Linked DNA regions of Homo sapiens. The protein of the gene in region 1 interacts with the protein of each later gene in a biochemical or structural test. Each region holds a gene or a part of one and is shown in the gene's direction. Other genes may lie near its edges.

Region 1 (3,648 bases):
CTCTCTAAGGGCAGGGACTGTATCCTGCCACATTGGCCCACGTCTGGAGAGCCTGTGGCACATGGTGGATACACCATGGATTTGTTGAATGAAGGCGCCCCCTGCAAGCCAGGCCCTCACCCTGGCTTCTGGCTGTGGGCCCAGGGGTGTCCTGGGAGCACAACCCTAGCTGAATTCCTGCCTGCCCTCCCCTCCAGGCCGAGTGTACTACTTCAACCACATCACTAACGCCAGCCAGTGGGAGCGGCCCAGCGGCAACAGCAGCAGTGGTGGCAAAAACGGGCAGGGGGAGCCTGCCAGGGTCCGCTGCTCGCACCTGCTGGTGAAGCACAGCCAGTCACGGCGGCCCTCGTCCTGGCGGCAGGAGAAGATCACCCGGACCAAGGAGGAGGCCCTGGAGCTGATCAACGGTGAGCAGGGCGAGGGCAGGGGCTTGGGAGGGGGTCTTCTCCCAGGTGAGCCTTTGTAGAAGTCACATCAGACCCTTCACCCCAGCTTGCTCAGCTGCCAGGCGTGGTGTTGGCCAACACAAAAACGCCAGTGCATGACCTGACCCTGACCTTCACAGCAGCCATTCTCTTTCTTTTCCATCTGGCATTTGAGGGTGAGCCAGGTAGGGGCAGAGGACCCAGCCTGGGGGCTGGCAGACATGGGTTCAGGTAGTAGCTGTGCCTCTGTGAACTCTGTGACCTTTGGGAGGGGACTCGTGTCACCTCCCCTAGACTCAGCTTTCTCTGTAAAATGGGCATCCTCTAAGGACCATTGTGAAGGTTCAAGGGAATAAGGCAATGGATTTTGCACAGTAGGCCCTCAGTCTGTGGGAAGTGTTGTCAATAGTAATATCATCCACTAGGGGCCTGAGTCATAAACATAGGTGGATCCAGAGAGAGCAGTCAGGAAGGTAGTGAGTGCATGCAGGGTGCGGTGGCTCACGCCTGTAATCCCAGCACTTTGGGAGGCCTTGGAGGGCAGATCACCTGAGGTCAGGAGTTCAAGATTAGCCTGGGCAGTATGGTGAAACTCCATCTCTACTAAAAATACAAAGATTAGCCAGATGTGTTGACGCATGCCTGTAATCCCAGCTACTCGGGAGGCTGAGGCAGGGAGGCAGAGGTTGCAGTGAGCCGAGATCGCACCACTCCACTCCAGCCTGGGCAGCAAAGTGAGGCACCATCTCAAAAAAAAAAAAAAAAAAGAGGTAGTGAGTGCCAGTAGATAGTGAGTTAATTCTGACCTAAGGGAGGAAGCTATTCCCTGCTCTGTTCTGTGTTTCCTCTGCAGTCTGGCACCAAGGTGGCAAACTTTAAAGGCCAGATGGTAAATATTTTAGGTTTTGTGGGCCATGCAGTCTCTATCAGCTCTGCTTTGTAACTGGATAGCACTCATAACTAATATGTAAGCAAGCACATGGTCATGGCTGTGTGCCAAGAAAACTTTACTATTTACAAAATCTGGGAGGATTTGGCCTGCAGGCCATCATTTGCAGAGCCCTGTCTAAAGCTGTCCAGTTTGGCTGCCACTCCCACCCTGTGCGGGAGGATCACTTGAGCCCAGGAGTTTGAGACCAGCTTGGGCAACATAGCAAAACCCCGTCTCTAAAAAAATAAAAAAATTAGCTGGACATGGTGGTGCACGCCTGTAGTGTCAGCTACTTAGAAGACTGAGGTGGGAGGATCCTTTGAGCCCAGGAGGCAGAGGTTGTAATGAGCCGAGATCACACTACCGCACTCCAGCCTGGGTGACAGAGCAAGACCCTGTCTCAAAAATAAATAAGATAATATCAAAAATTGGTTTCTCAATTGCACTGGTCATACTTTAGCTGGTGGCTGCCATCTTTGACAGCGGGAATATAAAACATTTACATTCTTGGCCGGGCGCGGTGGCTCACGTCTGTAATTCCAGCACTTTGGGAGGCCAAGGTGGGTGGATCACGAAGTCAGGAGATCGAGACCATCCTGGCTAACACGGTGAAACCCTGTCTTTACTGAAAATCCAAAAAAATTAGTCTGGCATGGTGGCGGGCACCTGTAGTCCCAGCTACTCGGGAGATAGGCAGGAGAATGGCATGAACCCGGGAGGTGGAGCTTGCAGTGAGCTGAGATCGTGCCACTGCACTCCAGCCTCGGCAACAGAGCGAGACTCCGTCTCAAAAAAACAAAAACAAAAACAAAAAAAAACACTTTTCCATTCTTGCAGTAAGTTGTGTCTGATGCCTTTCTCAGAGTCCCCAAACCTGGGCTGTCCCTACTCCAAACAACCCATCTCTCAACCATGCCCAGACAGCCTGGGTTGCTATGCAGCTCTGCCACGTCCTGGCTATGTGCTCTTGAGCAAGTTACTTAACATCTCTGGGCTTCAATCTTTTTCTCCTTCTTCTTTTGAGACAGGGTCTTGCTCTGTCACCCAGGCTGGAGTGCAGTGTTCATAGCTCACTGCAGCCTCAACCTCCTTGGGATCAGGTGATCCTCCCACCTCAGCCTCCCAAGTAGCTGGGACTGCAGGCTCATAACACCACACCTGGCTGATTTTTGTATTTTTAGTAGAGACAGGACTTCACCATGTTGCCTAGGATGGTCTCAAACTCCTGGCCTCAAGTGATCCTTCCACCTCAGCCTCCCGAAGTGTTGGGATGACAAGCATGAACCACCGCCCCCAGCTGTCAGTCTTTTTCATTTATAAAATTAGTATTAGAATAATAAGACCCACTTCACAGGGTAGTTGTGAGGACTCCTGGCTAATACAGTAAAGCGGGAGTAACAGCTCCTGGCATCGGTAAATGTTCTGTCATTGTTAGTGGTCACTGTCATTGCTGTTGTTGGTTGTGGTAGCACAGGGCCCAGCACAGAGTGTACACTCGGTCAGTATTGGCTGTTGTTTTACTCTCTCATCACTTGGTCCAGTTGGCCTGTAGGATGTTATTACATATGCACACCCCCAACATGGCATCTAGGACAGTAAGTGCCACCCGTTAGTCTTATATGTAAGCATGGCAGAGAGAAGCCGAGTTCTTGCACAGAATCTTGAAGGCTGATTGAAGAGCCAGCCTCCTGACCTCTGAGGGCAGGGACTGGATCTCTCTCTTTCCCCTGTATTCCCATCCTGCCACACAAAGCCTGGCCCAGAGTCAGCCCTCACAGCCTTGTTTCATGAGCCAGTAGGAAGCAAGAAGGATTCCTGGCACAGGACGGGGCAGAAGTAAAGGCCTAGGACTAGGATGTAGCCAGAACTCTGGGGAAGGCTTTGCAGGGAGCTAGGGGGTGATGAGACCCTTCACGGGCAGGTCCCAGCCAGGTTGAGGAGGGTCCTTGTCAGGTGAGGAGGTTTGGTTCTTTCCTGGAGGCAGCAGGACATATGTGGCCATGTGGGACCAGGAGAGGAACCCACAGTGCTCTGCTTTCAGCAGAGATCTGTGAAGCTAGAATGTCAAGGGCCAGGGAAGTGGAAGGCCCAGAACCTTCAGGGGTTCTGGTTGCCCCAGAGCAAGAAGAAGAAGTGGAGGGAGAAGCCAGGAGAGAATTGCAAGATGACCCTTCAGGTCCTCCCAGCTCTAGTGGTCTCTGTTCTGAGGCTTCCGGACCCTATAAGAGTGAGCAGGAGGGTGCAGGCATTTGGGGATGGAGCGGCATGAAGTGGGCTCCTGGGGGTCAG
Region 2 (3,748 bases), on another chromosome or scaffold:
AATGAACTATAAAAAGAAAAACTAAATCCAAAGCTGGCAAAAAGAAGGAAATAATAAAGATTAAAGCCAAGATAAATGAAATAGAAAATAGAAAACGATAGAGAAAATCAATGAAACCAAAAATTGGTTCTTTGAAAATGTCAAAGCATTATTCACAATATCTTGAATAGGGAAGCAAGCCAAGTGTCCATCAACAGGTGAGTGGATAAGCAAAATGTGGCATATCCATACAATGGGATAGTATTCAGTGTTAAAAAGGAAGGAAATTCCACAATGTGCTACAACATGGATGAACCTTGAGGATGTTCTGCTAAGTAAAATAAGTCAGTCACAAGACAAATACTGTATGATTCCACTCTTATGAGTAGTCAGACTCAGAGACACAGGAAGTAAGATGGTGACTGCCAGAAAGTAGAAGGTAGAGGGGAACCGAGAGTTAACATGTAATGCATAGTTTGTTTTTCAAGATGAAAGAGGTACAGAGATGGATGGTGGTGTTATGAATATACTTACCACCACTGAGCTGTACACGTAAAGATAGTTAAGACGGTAAATTCTATGGATTTTATTTTTATTTTTTTGAGACAGAGTCTCACTCTCTCCCCCAGGCTGGAGTGCAGTGGCGCGATCTCGCTGTAACCTCCGCCTCCCCGGTTCTATGGGATTCTCCTGCCTCAGCCTCCCTAGTAGCTGGGGTTACACGCGCCCGCCACCACGCCTGGCTAATATTGTATTTTTAGCAGAGACAAGGTTTCACCAGGTTGGACAGGCTGGTCTCGAACTCCTGACCTCAGATGATTCACCTGCCTAGGCCTCTCAAAGTGCTGGGATTACAAGCGTGAGCCACCGCGCCCGGCCATTCTATAGTTCATTTTCACCACAAAAACAAAAATGAAATTCACAACAAGCAAAACTTCAGAAGGGTACAAAGGTAGAGAGCAGTGTGAGCTAATTTTACAGTCTTTCAAAGCATACAGACTGATGGCATCAGCATTAGAGGTGCATGCATTTTAATTAGAATTGTGGTGGTAACATTCATAAAACTGAAAACAAAAAACGAAGAAGATAACTTCTGGGAATCGGGACTTTCAGTGGAGGCGGGGTGATGAGAAAAGGAATATTTACTGTCATCCAACAACTTTGTCTTGTACTTTTGTCATAGGTATTATGCCAGTAATATCCCTGAGAATGTATGGGGCAGGTCTAGCTCTTTTTTTCCTAATAAATTCATTCACACAACAATCAAAACAGCAAGAAAAGGAAGAGATATCCGCACGGCGGCGGCAGGCCGGGGCCGTTCCAAGGGCCTGGCCGGAGGCCACAGGCCAGACGCGGCGGAACCCTCCCGGAGCCGCGCCCGGGCGCGCGCGGGAAGCGGAGGCGGAGTGGGCACGTGCGGCACTTCCGGGGCGGGGCGGGCACGCAGCCCTTCCGAAGGCCCGCGCGAGCCGCTAGTTTTGCCCACGCACTTTTGGCACAGCCGCGCCACGCGATCGGCGATCTGATTGGCCCGCGCGGGAGGGCGCGCGGCGCCAAACTTGCTTCCCGTCAGCCCCCGCCCGTCCCGCGGGAGCGCGCACGCTCGCGCACCCGGATCCCGGCTCCTGCATCCAGTCGCCATTCGGGAGGCCGCTGCGCTGCAGGGCCTCGCGGAGCCGCCCGCGACCGCGAGCCGGGCCCTCCGCGCGGTCCATCGCCCACTGGACGCCGCCCGCGGCCGGACCGGTGAGGAGCGAGAGCGAGCGGGGGAGGGGCGTGGTTGGGGCCTGCATCCCCGAGCCCCGTGTCGGCCGCCGACCTGGCGGGGACGGTCCCGGGAAGCCGCGGGTCCGAGTGAAGGGGGCCTGCGCTGCCTCGCTTCCCACACGGCCCGAGGGAAGGGCCCGCCCCCACAGGCCGGGGCGGGAGTGCGTCTTTGTGCAGGGAGCGGGGAGGCCCGGTGTCAGTCGCTGCCGAGGCTGGAAACATTGCGTTTGAAACCATTGGGAAGTTGAGGGCGGCACAAGACGAAAGCCATTCTTTCTGTTTTAGTTCTAGACTGCCTCCTCTTCTGTCATTATTACTGTTTAAAAATCCGCTATACAGCCTCCAAAGTGGGAGAGGACATTTGTAAACCTGATAAAGAGTTAATGTCTAGAATACAAGAAGAGATGCAACTGACCAACAAAAAGCAACCCAGTTCAAGAATGGGCAAGGAATTTGAATAGATATTTCTCCAGAGAAGAGAGACAAATGGCCAATAAGCACGTGCAGTGATGCTCAACATCACTAACCATTAAGGAAATGCAGATGAAAACCACAATGAGATACCACCTCACACCTGTTAGGGTGGCTATTAAAAAAAAGGGAAATTATGAGTGTTGGGGATGTGGAGAAATTGAAGCTCGGGTGCATTGCTGGTGGGAAAGTAGGGTGGTGCAGCAGCTATGGAAATTGGTAGTCGTTCCTCAGTTCTAGGTTTATACCCCCAAAAATTGACAGCAGAGACTCAGATACTTGTTCACAAATGTTCATCGCAGCATTATTCAAAATCCAGATGTCTATCAACATGTGGATGAAAGGCAAGCTGTGGTATATACATATAATGAATGGACCATTGTTCATCTTTAGAAAGGAATGAAATTCTGATACATGCTGCAATATAAACGAACACATTATACAGTATAAACGAGCACATTGAACACATTATGTTGAGTGAAATAAGACACAAAAAAGACATACTGTATGATTCCCCCTCAGGCACAGAATTGAGATTACCAGCACTGAAAGTGGAGAGTGGAAGTTACTGTTTCATGGGTACAGAATTTCTGTTTGTGGTGAAGAAGTTCTGGAAGTGGATAGTGGTGATGTTTGCACAACGTTTTAGTACTAAACTAACTAAATTGTGCTTTTAAAAATGATTAAATGGCAAGTTTTGTTTTTTTTTTTTTTTTTGAGACGGGAGTTTCGCTCTCGTTGCCCAGGCTGGAGTGCAATGGCCCGACCTTGGCTCACTGCAACCTCCGCCCCCTGGGTTCAAGGGATTCTTTTGCCTCATTCTCCCAAGTAGCTGGCATTACAGGCGCTTGCCACCACACCTGGCTAATTTTGTATTTTTAGTAGAGATAGGGTTTCTCCATGTTGGTCAGGCTGGTTTCGAACTCCTGACCTCAGGTGATCCACCCGCCTCGGCCTTCCAAAGTGCTGAAATTACAGGCATGAACCACCATGTCCGGCCTAAATGGCAAGTTTTTTGTTTTTATTTTTGTTTTTGTTTTTTAATGAGCCAGAGTTTCACTTTTGTTGCCTGGGCTGGAGTGCAGTTATGCGATCTTGGCCCACTGCAGCCTCCGTCTCTCGGATTTAAGCGATTCTCCTGCCTCAGCCTCCCAAGTAGCTGGGATTACAGGCGCCTGCCACCACACCCGGCTAATTTTGTATTTTTAGTAGAGACGAGGTTTCTCCACGTTGGTTAGGCTGCTCTCTGACTTTCAACCTTAGGTGATCCGCCCACCTTGGCCTCCCAAAGTGCTGGGATTACAGGCGTGAGCCTGTGGTGGCGCGCGCCTGTAGTCCCAGCTACTGGGGAGGCTGAGGCAGGAGAATCGCTTGAACCTGGGAGGTGGAGATTGCAGTGAGCCGAGATTGCGCCATTACACTCCAGCCTGGGTGACAGAGCGAGACTCCCTCTCAAAAAAAAATAAATAAATAAAAATGACTCCTTGTGTAAACTATAGACTACTTAATAAATCAGTATTAGCTTATCATT
Region 3 (3,648 bases), on another chromosome or scaffold:
TAGCTAAAAAATCACTGGCCCTTAAGAATCCTGGTCTCACCATGTGTATTCTGCTGAGGGCTTATTCTAGCCAATGTCATGGCTTCTGGGGCTGCTCAGTGGACTTAGGGATTGTCTTCAGGGGCCCCAGAGTTAGAGTGAGTGTCCAGAGGATGCCTGACCTTTGTTCTGACCCTGAGATGATTTCTCTCATGTCTGGGTTGTGGCTGGGAGACTGGTGCCAAATCCTACCTTGTGCTTACAGGTATACCTTGTTAGTGGGCAAACCACCTTTTGAGACTTCTTGCCTAAAAGAGACCTACCTCCGGATCAAGAAGAATGAATACAGTATTCCCAAGGTGACTAATGATGCTTTAAGTTTACATTTATTTTGTTTTCCCCAGAAGCTGTTTATGGAGCCCAGCAATATCCTAGGACCAGAAATAGGTCTATCCCACCTCTAAGGTAGCCACAGAGCTTGAGAGGGCCTGTGTCTGAAATTGCATACAGAACTTGACATGTATGTGCACATAAGCATTTTTTCTAGGGGGAGAGAGTTGGCAGATTCTCAAGAGATTGGGTAACCCAAAAGTTGTGTAAAAAGCAAAAAACAAAGGAGGTAGGAAGGAGTAGGAGGCAAAAGTGCTTAATCTTTAGAAATGGTTTATCTTAATTCAAATGGATTCTGCCACTTAGCGAGATCACATTGGGCAAATGGCCTGCATCTTTTTTTTTTTTTTTTTTATTTGAGGTGGAGTTTTGCTCTTGTTGCCCAGTGCAGTGGCATGATCTTGACTCACTGCAACCTCCACCTCCCAGGTTCAAGCGATTCTCCTGCCTCAGCCTCCCAAGTAGCTGGGATTACAGGCACCCACCACCTCGCCTGGCTTTTTTTTTTTTTTTTTGTATTTTTAGTAGAGACGGGGTTTCACCATGTTGGCCAGGCTGGTCTCGAACTCCTGACCTCAGGTGATCCACCCGCCTTGGCCTCCCAAAGTGCTGGGATTACAGGCGTGAGCCACCATACCCAGCCTGGCCTGCATCTTCTGAACCATAGTTTCCATATATAAAGTGGAGTTCCTGCCTTGGAGCACCTCACAGAGTGCCTTGCATGTGGTGAGTGCTCTCAGAATTATGAATCACTGTGAATCCCAGGGCTTCCTAATGGCATAGTTGTGTGCATTTTCTTTTTTTTTTTTTTTTTTTTTTTGAGATGGAGTCTCGCTCTGTCGCCCAGGCTGGAATGCAGTGGTACAATCTCGGCTCACTGCAAGCTCTGCCTCCCAGGTTCATGGCATTCTCCCGCCTCAGCCTCCTGAGTAGCTGGAACTACAGGCACCAGCCACCATGCCCGGCTTCTTTTTTCTGTATTTGTGGTAGAGACAGGGTTTGACCGTGTTAGCCAGGATGGTCTCGATCTCCTGACCTTGTGATCCACCTGCTTCGGACTCCCTAAGTGCTGAGATTACAGGCGTGAGCCACCGCGCCCGGCCATGGTGTGCATTTTCACAACCACCAACAGAAATACATTTAAAGGAATAGCTGGTTCCTGCAGAAGCCTAGCACACAGCCAGTTTGAAGTGTAGTGTCCTTGTGTGAAGCCAGGAGGCCTGTCACCATAAGGACAGACATAGTAAATCCATCACAAAGTGTCAGTTCACTGTCAGAGACAGCATGGAATCAAGCCAGCTAGACAAGGCCTTCACCCTCTCTGTGCCTCACTTTCCTCCTCTGTGAAAAAGGGATGATAATAGATCCCCACCCCTTAGATGAGTTGGTGAGGGCTAAGTGAGCTAAACACAGGAGTGCTTAGAATGCTTTCCTGGCACATAGTGAGTGCTAGGAAAGTGAGTTGGTGTTCGGCCACAGTCCATTGACCCTTCTGTCAATGGTGCTCAGTAAAGCTGACAGTGGAGAACTTGGCATTGAACCAAGTTGTGAACCACTGACCTGTGGTGTATTTGAGACTGGGGGCTGCATGTGGGCTGGGGACCTGCAGCTCCTTTGAGGCCGTACTGTACTCCAGGTCCCCTTCACATTCTGCTTATGGCTGTCCCTCTCTCTGCCCCAGCACATCAACCCCGTGGCCGCCTCCCTCATCCAGAAGATGCTTCAGACAGATCCCACTGCCCGCCCAACCATTAACGAGCTGCTTAATGACGAGTTCTTTACTTCTGGCTATATCCCTGCCCGTCTCCCCATCACCTGCCTGACCATTCCACCAAGGTTTTCGATTGCTCCCAGCAGCCTGGACCCCAGCAACCGGAAGCCCCTCACAGTCCTCAATAAAGGTACAACAAGGGTCTGGGTAAGAGAGCAGACCCCCCAGAGAAAGCCCAGGTTGTAGGGGTGTGTGCAGCTTAGTCCCTGGCCCTGAGAGCTCAGGTGTGGAGTAGGACAGGCCTCTGTCCTTCAATCCGTGGTTCCAATGCCCATCTGCTTCTCGGCCCTGCCAGGAAAGACTGACCTTACCATGGCTGGATAAACGTACCATGCCCAAGAAGAAGAAAATGGATTGAATGCCAAGCCTGAAAAATTCTTTCAAATCACTTTAATTAATTTAATTTTTTGGAGACAGGGTCTCTCCTCTATTTTCCAGGTTGGAGTGCAGAGGCACAATCACAGCTCACTGCAGCTTTCAACTCTAGGGCTCAATTGATCCTCCCATCTCAGCCTCCCAAGTAGCTGGGACTGTCAGGCATGCACCACCATGCCTGGCTGACTTTTCTAATTTTTGTAGAGACAGTGTTTTGCCATGTTGCCCAGGCTGGTCTTGGAACTCCTGGGCTCAAGCGATCCTTTCACCTCCACCAAAGTGTTGGGATGACAGGCATGAGCTGCTACATCTGGCCTTTAAAAAAATTTCTAACACTTTTTCATGATTCATTGAAAAACATAAAAATTTCCTTTTTTTTGTGGCGTGATCCCGGCTCACTGCAAGCTCTGCCTCCCGGGTTCACGCCGTTCTCCTGCCTCAGCCTCCTGAGTAGCTGGGACTACAGGCGCCCACCACCATGCCCGGCTGTTTTTTTGTATCTTTTAGTAGAGACGGGGTTTCACTGTGTTAGCCAGGATGGTCTCAATCTCCTGACCTCGTGATCCGCCTGCCTCGGCCTCCCAAAGGGCTGAGATTACAGGCGTGAACCACCAGGCCCGGCCTTTTTTTTTTTTTTTTTTTTTTTTTTTTTTTTTTTTTTTTTTGAGACAGGGTCTGGCTCTGTCTCCTAGGCTGGAGGGGAGTGGTATGATCTCGATTTCACTAAGGATACATAGTTTTAAAAAGTCACTTGAAATACTTTTTTTCTCTGTGGATATATCACCAATTTGATGTACAACTTCAGTTCATTTTTCAGTTTTCAATTTTTAGGTATTGGTTTTTCTTAAACTTCATTTTGGAATAATTTTAGGCTTATACAGAAAAGTTGCAACAACAACAAAAAACTCCCCAGAGTTCCTACATACCTTGCAGCAATTATTACAGTGGAATTTTTTTTGAGACAGGTCTCAGGACTTGCTGTCACCCAGGCTGGAATGCAGTGGCTCACTCATAGCTTACTGCAGCCCCAACATCCTGGGCTCAAACAGTCCCCCTGCCTTACCCTCCAGAGTAGCTAGGACTACAGGCATGTGCCACCATACCCAGCTAATTAAAAAATTTTTTTCTTTGGG

Evidence for each region.
Region 2: the proteins of PIN1 (region 1) and CHAMP1 form a complex in vitro, tested with the Homo sapiens proteins (one study listed by BioGRID).
Region 3: the proteins of PIN1 (region 1) and PLK1 form a complex in vitro, tested with the Homo sapiens proteins (3 studies listed by BioGRID, with this or other methods).

The regions. Positions count from the first base shown.
Region 1 is NC_000019.10:9,838,239-9,841,886, forward strand, and holds part of PIN1 (peptidyl-prolyl cis-trans isomerase NIMA-interacting 1), read left to right. Parts: intron 1-197; coding exon 198-410; intron 411-3,648. UniProt on the Homo sapiens protein: Peptidyl-prolyl cis/trans isomerase (PPIase) that binds to and isomerizes specific phosphorylated Ser/Thr-Pro (pSer/Thr-Pro) motifs.
Region 2 is NC_000013.11:114,312,919-114,316,666, forward strand, and holds the start of CHAMP1 (chromosome alignment-maintaining phosphoprotein 1), read left to right. Parts: upstream 1-1,584; 5' UTR 1,585-1,725; intron 1,726-3,748. UniProt on the Homo sapiens protein: Required for proper alignment of chromosomes at metaphase and their accurate segregation during mitosis. Involved in the maintenance of spindle microtubules attachment to the kinetochore during sister chromatid biorientation.
Region 3 is NC_000016.10:23,681,820-23,685,467, forward strand, and holds part of PLK1 (serine/threonine-protein kinase PLK1), read left to right. Parts: intron 1-244; coding exon 245-338; intron 339-2,050; coding exon 2,051-2,270; intron 2,271-3,648. UniProt on the Homo sapiens protein: Serine/threonine-protein kinase that performs several important functions throughout M phase of the cell cycle, including the regulation of centrosome maturation and spindle assembly, the removal of cohesins from chromosome arms, the inactivation of anaphase-promoting complex/cyclosome (APC/C) inhibitors, and the regulation of mitotic exit and cytokinesis.